Regions from separate parts of the Homo sapiens genome. Here region 2 is linked to region 1. Evidence: fine-mapped expression QTL. A gene starts in region 1. The other region holds a variant in brackets. All regions are shown on one strand. Distances are from middle to middle.

Region 1 (5,000 bases):
ATTAGATTTCAGGCTAAGAACAGCCAGTTTTAGGAGTAAGAATTACATCGAATAGCCTTAAGAGCATTTAAAAAGTCAAGGCATCTTAAACTTCAGAAATGAAAACAAAACCAAAACAAAACAACAACAAAAACAACCTAACCCAACCACAAAACTCTAGGAGCCAAGGCACTCAGTATCTGCCTGTTGGTTATGTACAAAGCCACAAATGGGAGGTCTTTTCAAATTAATCTGGAAAATCCAAGCACAAGACTCTTAGCTTGAAAAGCCTGACAACTCTGCCTCCAAATCCAGGCAACTGTGCTTCCACTCCTCTTCTTGCTTGCCTTAGGAAAACTTCACTTTAGTAAGATAAGGCAAAACAGAAAATAAAAGAGTCGTTTAACCAAACTCCAAAAACAAACAAAAATAGAAAATAAAAAACCAACTTCCTACAAGTATACTTGTAAAAATATATTTTTAAAGCACCCCTAAGTAAACACCAATCTTGCCCAAGAAAAATCACAGGTTTGGGGCCTATCTGATAATGACTGTCCCGGAAGTCTCTCTTTTTTGAGACAGTTTCACTCTGTCGCTCAGGCTGAAATGCAGTGACGTGATCTCGGCTCACTGCAACCTCCACCTCCTGGGTTCAAGTGATTCTCCTGCCTCAGCCTCCCGAGTAGCTGGATTACAGGCGCCTGCCACCACACTCAGCTAAATTTTGTATTTTTAGTACAGACGAGGTTTCACCATGTTGGCCAGGCTGGTCTTGAACGCCTGACCTCAGGTGAGCTGCCCGCCTTGGCTTCCCAAAGTGCAGGGATTACAGGCATAAGCCACCACACTCGGCCCCAGAGGTCTCTTTTACAACAGCACTAACCAACAGACTTTAGTCCAATATGGTTAAGAACAATGAATCTCTGAAATTTCAGAGTTGGCAAACGTTTAAAATAACGTATAAGAACTTGGGTGAGGTTTTTCTCCCCTATCTCTTTACATACACACCATAAATAAGAACACCCAAGTCCATGTCCCTGGGTGCTGGTAAAGTGTTCTAGATAGTGTGAATCACAGTCACGATAAAACCATTTTCTGAAGGTTTCGAGGAGATATTGGATATGCAAATCAAATGTCCTAAACACAGCAGAAAAGATGACTCTTTGGGAAAGGAGATTCAAAATTCTCTTTTTTTTTCTGTTTGAGACGGAGTCTCGCTCTGCTGCCCAGGCGGGAATGCAGTGGTGTGATCTCGGTTCACTGTAAGCTCCGCCTCCCAGGTTCCCGCCATTCTCCTGCCTCAGCCTCCCAAGTAGCTGGGACTACAGGCGCCCGCCACCACGCCTGGCTAATTTTTTTGTATTTTTAGTAGAGACAGGGTTTCACCGTGTTAGCCAGGATGGTCTCGATCTCCTGACCTCGTGATCCACCTGCCTCGGCCTCCCAAAGTGCTGGGATTACAGGCATAAGCCACCGCGCCCGGCCCCAAAATTCTTTCATAAAGAATGAGACAAACCAGCCAAGCACGTTAAAGTCATTGAGCTTTCGGGGGAAAAATCAGATTTTTCCGGTGACTCGGGGTAAATGTGGGGACTTAGAAAGCTCCCCCTAGAAGGCAAAAGTAGAAGCTGAAAGTGTCCCCACTCTTGACTGTCCTGCCTTGTCAGAACCCTGCAATCTGTGACACCGCACAGGAGCCAGTGGGTTTTGATGACTGGTGTGTTGCTCTCTGCTGGAATACATCTGTGGGGTCAAGAAGCGGGAGGAGGAAATGCCTGTCTCAACCACTAACTAATTTGCCTTTATTATCTTTTCCTGAACATCAGATCAATTGTGGAAGAACATAAAATGCAAAACATGAACTTGCAGAAAACAAGAGCCAATCCCATTTCTCTTCTGCAGCTGCACTGGAAATGTGCGTCAGCTCAGTGTGTCACAGCAGAGATACACGTGGACGGGGAAGCACAGCAGCTTGCAGGAAAGGCCTGGCTGGCAGAGAGCACCCAAAGATGAACACAATGAACAGTGAGGGTCTCACGCGAGGTGGCTGGGGCTGAGTGGCTTTTGGCGACTGATGTCCCACATCTGAGTGGAGAGCAGAGGAGAGACTCCTCCAGCTTCATCAGCACTGGCATAGGCTTGATTCCCATCCATACCCTTTCCAGCACAGACGTGCACAGACTCTCGTGGCTGCCACAGTGCGAAAGCGCGCCAGCCACCACTGCTCCTTTGAGTGAGACACTGGTTGTGTAATCTGAACCTGGCTGGATTTGCTGTTTAAGAAAGAAGTGAAGAGGATCCTTTTATTTTCCCAAACGGGGCCTCATGGAAGTTCCACGTTGCTCCTCCCTGGCCTTCCATCTCCACTGCACAGTGAGCAGAGCTAGGCTTGTCTGTGGCAGCTCCGCCACGCCCTGTCACCTGCAGTCACTAGTAGTAGGGCCCTAGCTTTTCATATCCTAAGTAACTTGGCCACTCTGGAAACAGACCATAGGAACACCGAGGGCTTCCGAACTGGTCAAAGGATATTCCCAAATCCGGTCCACTGTGGGGCTTGGTCATTCCCTGGGTAGATTTTAACTCAGCCCGGATGATCCTATAGTTCTTGCCTCTGTTGCTGTCCCAGTACGTCTGTCCATTGCACTCGTAGTACACAGCAAACTCCATTCTTTCATAAGACTGAATCTTCTCGGGCAAGCTGATGTCGAAGGAGAACGTGTCCCTGTCTGAACCGGCATAAGTGTCCTTCACGTACTGACAAGGAAAGTCTGTGTAGCTCTTCCAGGTGTCGAACGTCATCCTTATTTTCACGGTCTTCTCAAATGCGAGGTTCTGAACCTTCACAGTGCCTGCAATGGCCTTGTCCTTGAGCACACAGTTCTCAAGGCAGACGTGGTCGGCCTGAAGTCGATTTCTAAAGTCTAAGTAATCTGCAGAGGGCTGGGAAAAATCCAGAACAAAGCTCTCGCTCTCTGCTGTCGTCAAGCTCACAATGTTGTCTAGGAGCTCGGTGATGTTGAATGGCATATCTAGCGGGTCATCGAATTCCGAGAACACTTTGACCATTGTCAGGGCCAGCCCCTGGTTGTCTGCGAAGGACACCCGCTTTTTCACCTTCTTCTCCTGGACAGCCGGGGCCACCATTCCACTGGCTTCATTCTTGCTGCTCAGCTGAATACAAGGCCTCAGTGGTTTGCTGGGCTTTGGTGAGATCTTAAAGGCAAACCTCTCTTGGCGCAAGGAAGGAGCCATGCAGTTGTATCTGTACTCGATGTCCACAGCCATCATGGGGCTAGATGAACAGGCTAGAACCGTGGAAAGGGAAGAGAAGAAAGAAAACAGTGGAGCAATCAGATCAGACAGATGTGTAAAGGCATCATTCCAGCAGGGACTGGCAAACAATATTTCCTTTTATCTATGCCCACCTGGCTACAGGTCAGGATTAACTCTGGTGTGGTCCAGCACAACATGCGTTTGAGAGAAGATTATGTTGTGGGGGGACGAGATGCGGTGGGGGGTGGGGGGTGCTTCAAGGTTAAAACAAACAAAAGAGTATGAAACCCACTAGTTTTAAAACTAAATGCACAGGTTTTTTGGTCAGCATTTCTTGGGGCCTTCCGTTGGCAAATGTGCCACAGAGGATAATCAAAAGGGCATATATACTGTTTTAAAATTTCCCAAATCTATTTGACTAAAAGGGTGTCTTCCACAGATAGCTGTCCTGAGGGACACTATTTATTTACGTATTTTTAGAGATAGGGTGTTGCTCTGTGCCCAGGCTGGAGCGCAGTGGCGTGAGCACAGCTCACTGCAGCCTCGACCTCCCAGGCTCAAATGATCCTCCCACCTCAGCCTCCCAAGAAAGTGGGACCACAGGCGCAAGTCACCATGCTTGGCTAATTTTAAAAAATTTTTGTAGAGACAGGACTCGCTATGTTGCCCAGGCTGGTCTCACACTCCTGGCTCAATCCATCCTCCTGCCTTGACCTCCCAAGGTGCTAGGATTACAGGTGTGAGCCTCTCTGCCTCTCTTTATTAATTGAGAAGTAAAAATTGTATATTCTTATGGTGTACAACAGGTTTCCATATATGTATACATTGTGGAATGGCTAAATCGAGCTATTTAACATGCATTATATCACACTTTTTTTGCAGTGAGAACACTTAAAATCCACTCTCAGCAATTTTCAAATATATAACATATCATTACCAAGTATAGGCACCATATTGTACATCAGATCTCTTGAATTTATTCCTCCCGTCTACCTGAAATTTTGTATCCTTTGGCCAAAGGATACCTCTCCAGTCCCTCTACCCTCACTTTCTGGTAGCCACCCCTGTACTCTCTGTTTCTATGAGTTTGACTTTTTCAGATTCCACATATAAGTGAGATCATGCTATATTTGTCACTCTGTGCCTGACTTATTCACTTAACATCCTCCAGGTTCATCCCCGTTGGCACAAATGACAGGATTTCCTTCTTTCTTCAGGTAGAATGGTATTCCACTGTGTTTATATACCATGTTTTCTTTATTCACTCATCCAATGATGGGCACTTAGGTTGATTCCGTATCTTGGCTTAGTGAATAACGCTGCAATGAACATAAGAGTACAGATAACTCTCCGATACACTGACTTCAATTCCTTTGGATATATGTCCTGCAGTGGGATTGCCGGGTCATATAGTAGTTCTAGTTGTGGTTTTTTGAGGAGCCTCCCTACTATTTTCCATAATGGCTGTACTAATTTACATTCCCACCAGCAGGAGACAAGGGTTCCCTTTTCTCCACGTCTTTGCCAATACTTATTTTCTTTGGTCTTCTTGAAAATAGCCATCCTAACGGGTGTGACGTGACATCTCATTGTGGCTTTATATTTGCTATAATCTGATAAAAAGAAATGGATTCATCCCACAAATAGGGATTGGGTGTTTCCTATATGGCAGGCATCAAGCAAGATACTGGGATTCAATAGTGAAGATAGACACAAACCTGCTTTCATTAAGTTTATGGTAGGTTTTT
Region 2 (5,529 bases), 23 kb before region 1:
CAAAATGAAAGTTTGTGGCAACCCTGCATCAAACAAGACTATCATCACCATTTCTCCAAATGCATGTGCTCACTTTGTGTCTCTGTGTCACATTTTGGTAATGCTTGCAATGTTTCAAACTTTTTCATTCTTTTTAGTGTAATACCATAAACCTTGAATAATATCATGAGATCCATATAGAGTGCCCCTAGTGACACTGAAATTGCTCCCAAGAAACAGAGAAAAGTCATGACATTACAAGAAAAAGTTGACTTGCTTGATCTGTACCATAGATTGAGCTCTGCAGCTGTGGTTGCCACCATTTCAGACAGATTATTCATCTTGTGAACAGGCAATGGAAACTTACGGTATCAATACATACAGTACAGTGCTGTAAATGTATTTTCTTCTCCTTATGATTTTCTTAATAACATTTTCTTTAGCTTACTTTATTATAAGAATATAGAATATAATACATATGCAAAATATATGCTAATTGACTGTTTATAGTATTGGCAAGGTTTCCAGTCAAAAGTCAACTATTAGTAGTTAAGTTTTTGAGAAGTCAAAAGTTATATGCAGATTTTTGACTGCATGGCGGGGGTCAGCCTCCGTAACTTTCACATTATTCAAGGGTCAACTGTAATAATAATTGCTTATGTATTCTTTGCAAGGCCCTGTGCTAAATGTTCCATAAACATTATCTCATTTGGCCTTCCCCCAAACCTTTACATTAGGGGCAAGTATTGTTCTCATTTTGCAAATCAGTGAGTTGAAACCTAAAGGGATCAAGTAAGTTGTCTCTCTGTCACACAGCTGAGTGTGTTTGGAAGCAAGACTAAAATCTAGATCTGCCTGACTTGAAGGCCCCTTTTCTTATCAGAATGTGGTAGATACAGGTTTTATCCATCCTTCCTCACAGACAAAAAGTAGCATGGTTCATGGTCATGTAAATACACACCCTGAATATTTACCCTTCTGATCACCTTGTGTAGAGGGAACATCCGCATCCAAGAGACGCCTGCAGTCCAGGGGGCTCCAGAGGGAGGGAGTCCTGTGGATGTGGAAGATACGCTTTTGTCTGAGAGTCATGAGATTGGACTGTGGGTCCCTGTTGTTGTTAACCCCTGTGTGATCTTGGGCAATTCACTGTTCCTGTCTTTACCTCTACTTGCTCCTCAGTAAGTCAGAGTGAACTGAGATCTCTTCCTGAAATTACTTAGCCTAATTCTATGGTTGGTTTCTGGTGGCCAGGAACCAGAAATAAATCTCTCAGCAAAATTTTGCTTATGGACCATGAATCTTAGAGTATCCATGGTATCACTGATATCTTTAATTCCCAGATATTTTCCAGTAATGAAATTCATATAATAAAGCCAGGATCTCTGGTTCTTAATGTGGTGTTCTCGAGATCTCTGACTCTGTCTAACCCCGCTTCCCCCAGATCTATCAAGTTTTAGTCCGTGCTGCTGGCCCGCCATTCCTTAGGAGTGCCTTGATCCTGGCCTGGTCACTTTTTTTTTTTTTTTCAATCATAAGGCACTAATTCCTACAAAGGGAGAAAACTCAAGGGTATGATAGTCATCCATCTTGGGAGGCTGTGCTCTGGAGTTGGGCAGCTTATGTTTCCCACCTACCAAAATTGTCTCCCTGCCTAATCTGTCCAAGGTGGGCAGAAAAGGTTGTTTCCATTTATGACTTCCTTGCGGAACTCAGTTTCCATGATGCCACTTCAGTACCACGCCTAGCCCTATATTAACAGCACGGTAGATTGGACACAGGGCCTCTTCTCCCAAGAATTCATCAATCCATAAGTTTTCATTAAGTAAATTAAACTAAGGCTCTTGCTAGTGCCTTCTTGGCACAAGAAACTTGTCAGTTTCTGGAATCTCTAAGGGTTCACATCTCCCCTCCCTCATCTCCATCTAGTCTTATTATTATTATTATTGAGATGGAGTCTCGCTGTGTCACCCAGGCTAGAGTGCAGTGGTGCGATCTCGCCTCACTGCAACCTCTGCCTCCTGGGTTTGAGCGATTCTCCTGCCTCAGCCTCCCAAGTAGCTAGGATTACAGGCGCCCGCTACCACAACTGGCTAATTTTTGTATTTTTAGTAAAGACAGGGTTTCATCATCTTGGCCAGGCTGGTCTCGTACTCCTGACCTCATGATCCACCCACCTTGGCCTCCCAAAGTGCTGGGATTACAGGCGTGAGCCACTGCACCCAGCCTGTATTATTTTT[G/A]TTTAAATAATTGTGCTGGAAAAATCATCCTGCTTGGGAAAAAAAAGAAGTAATGCAGGAAGAGGCATGGGGCCGACTCAGTGTGCTACGGCAGTCTTTTTGAGAATGACAGCTTGGGACACAGCCAATGGAAGAATTCACCTTCCTGATCTTCTCAGAAATGGCTTTAGAATGAGGTTATGGGCATAAAATATGCCTTCCTTTGGGCTCACTGCATAACTTTGGGGAGTGAATTTAACCTTGCAGTGGTCCAAGTGCAAATGTCCAAGGTGTTACTTCCCATAATTTTGTGACAATGAGAATTCTTGAAATACCAGGAGAGCCTTGCAAAAATAAAGTGACCTTGCAAAAGTGACATTTCTGGCCACTGCTGAAACTATAACAGGACTTAAAATGGAGCTTTCTTGTTTGTCATAAATTTATGGCCTCAATTTACTGTGAGACCGACCTCTCCAGTTGGTTCTGGGGGTGTCTAAATCACATGTCAGCATCTTACACACTGTGGGCCAGTGATGACGAGGGCTGGATTTTCACACATGGGAAGGCCAGGTGGCACCACTTTTGCTTATGACTTCCATTTACCATCTCCCTCTTTCCACTTCTCCTGCTGCTTGCGAGAACAGATCCACATTTGCTAACCTAGACCTCATGGGAGTTAGAGTTACCAAACAAGGAGAAGAAGGCCCTTAGCTTGGCAAAACTTCAAAAGTTTCTAGTTTCTAATCTAAAGGGGCAAAACTGTAGCCATACCTTGGAATGAAGACTGAAGTTTCCCCAGGACTGCTGAAGTCTCACCAATGGCTAATCAAATGTCAAATTTTCACAGCAAGAATTTTCCAGAAGGGGAACAGGTAACTGGATGTCAATTAAATTCCCTGGGCCTTAATTCTTTCATCTGTAAAATGAGGCAGTAGGAGTCACTGGTGTTCCACAGTTCTTTCTTGTGTCAGCTAGTCAGCTATGTAAGAGTCTTTTTATTCTTTTTTGTTGTTTTTTTTTTTTTTTTTTTTTTTTTTTAAATTTTTGAGACAGGGTCTCGCTCTGTCACCCAGGCTGGAGTGCAGTGATGTGATCTCGGCTCACTGCAGCCTTGACCTCCCAGGCTCAAGCGATCGTCCCACCTCAGCCTCCCGAGTAGTTGGGAGGGACCACAGGCATGCACCAACATGCCCGGGTAATTTTTAAATTTTTTTGTGGAGACAGAGTTTCACCATGTTGACCAGGCTGGTCTCGAACTCCTGGGCTCAAACAATCTGCCTGCCTTGGCCTCCTAAAGTGCTGGGATTACAGGCATGTGCCACTGCACCCAGCTGTCTTTTTATTCTATTGCATTCAAGTATTATTGCCAAAGGCTGATGTTACCTAAAATTAGCCATTTTATTACTATTTTTTTTGGCTAAAAAAAAAATCTCCAGTTCTCTTCCCCCTTCACACTATAAAATACAATGATTAGTAAAAGCTCATGACTTCTATCTTGCTCTAGCTCAGCAAACAACAGGAGGCTTTCATCCTCCTATGGATATATTTCAGATCTCTTCACTGATTTTTCTTAGGTGTCTATAGTATCTTGGGAGGGTTTCTATTCCAAGCTAACCCTATATTCTCTAAAGACCTACCCAAATATTCTAGCTTTAACTTCTCAGCAAAGTTCTATTCTTGTACTTCCAGTTGCCCATAGGGAATTTTCACTTGGAAAGAACATCTCATCATAAGACAGTTAACAGATATTTTTGAGTGGCTATGGTATATCCATCATTATGAGTAATCTAGAAGAAACATTAGACATTGCCTCTGTTCTTTTTTTTTTTTTTTTTGAGACAGAGTTTCGCTCTTGTTGCCCAGGCTAGAGTGCAATGGCTCAATCTCAGCTCACTGCAACCTCTGTCTCCCGGGTTCAAGGGCTTCGCTTCTCCTGCCTCAGCCTCCTGAGTAGCTGGGATTACAGGCGCCCGCCACCACGTGCAGCTAATTTTTTGTATTTTTAGTAGAGACGGGGTTTCACCGTGTTAGCCAGGATGGTCTTGATCTCCTGACCTCAGGTAATCGACCAGCTTTGGCCTCTCAAAGTGCTGGGATTACAGGCGTGAGCCACCGCACCCAGCCACCTCTGTTCTTAAGAAACTTAAATTACAACGGAGGAAAAAACAAATATATTCATCCAGGAAACACTTGTTGAGGATCTATTTATGTGAGATACTTTAAAGTCTGATAGGAAATGTCACCATGTATCTCAATTTGCCAGGAACTGTCTTATTTATACCTGTTGCATTGGTGTATTATAAATAGCAATCCTTCTGACCTTCAAAAATGCCCTAGTTTGTGTGGCAGATTAGAAGATTGCTTTGATGCTGGGAAGTGATAGGGCCCTGATAACCTCATCCACTAGAGTCAGGTCAACGGAGAAGATTACCATAGCAACTAAGGACCATTATGTTAACAGAAACAGATATTATCACAACCTGGATATGTTTGTAATTTGGATGAGGCAGTCTCATTCATTACCTGAGATATTTCTAGAAGCTGTATTCATGTTGTTGGTTAATCTAATGGAAAGTGTTATCTTCTCCAGCTTACAATTCTGATCAGCATCTATGCCTCTGGGATAGGCTTAGCCTATGCTGAGACAGGTCAGATCTCATGTCTATGGGGAATGGACCAAGGAGAAGCCTTAAAGAGTGCGCAGGCCAGGTGTGGTGGCTCACGCCTGTAATCCCAGCAGTTTGGGAGGCCGAGGCGGGCAGATCATTTGAGGCCAGGAGTTCGAGACCAGCCTGACCAACATGGTGAACCCCATCTCTACTAAAAAATATAAAAAGTTAGCTGGGCGTGGTGGCACATGCCGGTAATCCCAGCTACTCGGGAGGCTGAGGCAGGAGAATTGCTTGAACTTGGGAGACAAGTGAGCCGAGATCACGCCACTGCACTCCAGCCTGGGAGACACAGCGAGACTCCACATGAAGAGAAGGGACCTGAAGTCTCATGAGCTCAGTTCCATAATCATGCCTGGGTGGCTACTCCATGCTGGGCACTCCTCTAGTCAACAGGGCAGAAGGAATTTTATGAGCAGAGCCTGGAGGTGGGAAATAGCATGGGGTGTGTGGGGCCCACCAAGCAACTTGGCATTGGTGGACGTCTACAGTGTGTGGCAGTGGCCAGCAGGGGATGTGCTATGGGAATAGGCAGAGGCCAGACGATGGAGAACCTACATCAAGAAACATCGTGCTTTTTTAAAGCTTGGAAATGAAAAGATACCTCAGATGTGGCTCTATCCAAAGGGCTCTGCCTGCCTTGGCAGCCACCACACCTGCAG

Direction of the effects. Positions count from the first base shown, and alleles are read on the strand shown. Sizes are in standard deviations (SD) of each study's normalised expression.
With allele A in place of G in region 2, the expression in testis of the gene that starts at base 3,035 in region 1 is higher (small effect, 0.26 SD a copy in GTEx).

What was found. PIP is the estimated chance that this variant, and not a neighbour inherited with it, causes the effect.
Region 2: its variant is fine-mapped to the expression of PPP1R3B-AS1 in testis (GTEx, PIP 0.90).

What each region holds. Positions count from the first base shown.
Region 1 is chr8:9,138,385-9,143,384 of GRCh38, forward strand. It overlaps PPP1R3B-AS1 (PPP1R3B antisense RNA 1), which reads left to right and starts at 3,035. Exons shown (of 2, transcript XR_007060810.1): 1 at 3,035-3,414. It overlaps PPP1R3B (protein phosphatase 1 regulatory subunit 3B), which reads right to left. Exons shown (of 2, transcript NM_024607.4): 2 at 1-3,284. The coding sequence starts at 3,267. The coding sequence ends at 2,410. RefSeq lists an enhancer at 2,105-2,604.
Region 2 is chr8:9,115,374-9,120,902 of GRCh38, forward strand. LOC112268402 (a long non-coding RNA gene) reads right to left here. Exons shown (of 3, transcript XR_007060803.1): 3 at 300-1,033. Among named protein-coding and RNA genes, the nearest start is that of PPP1R3B-AS1, 23 kb to the right of the region's middle. The variant G/A (reference allele first, on the strand shown) is at 2,220.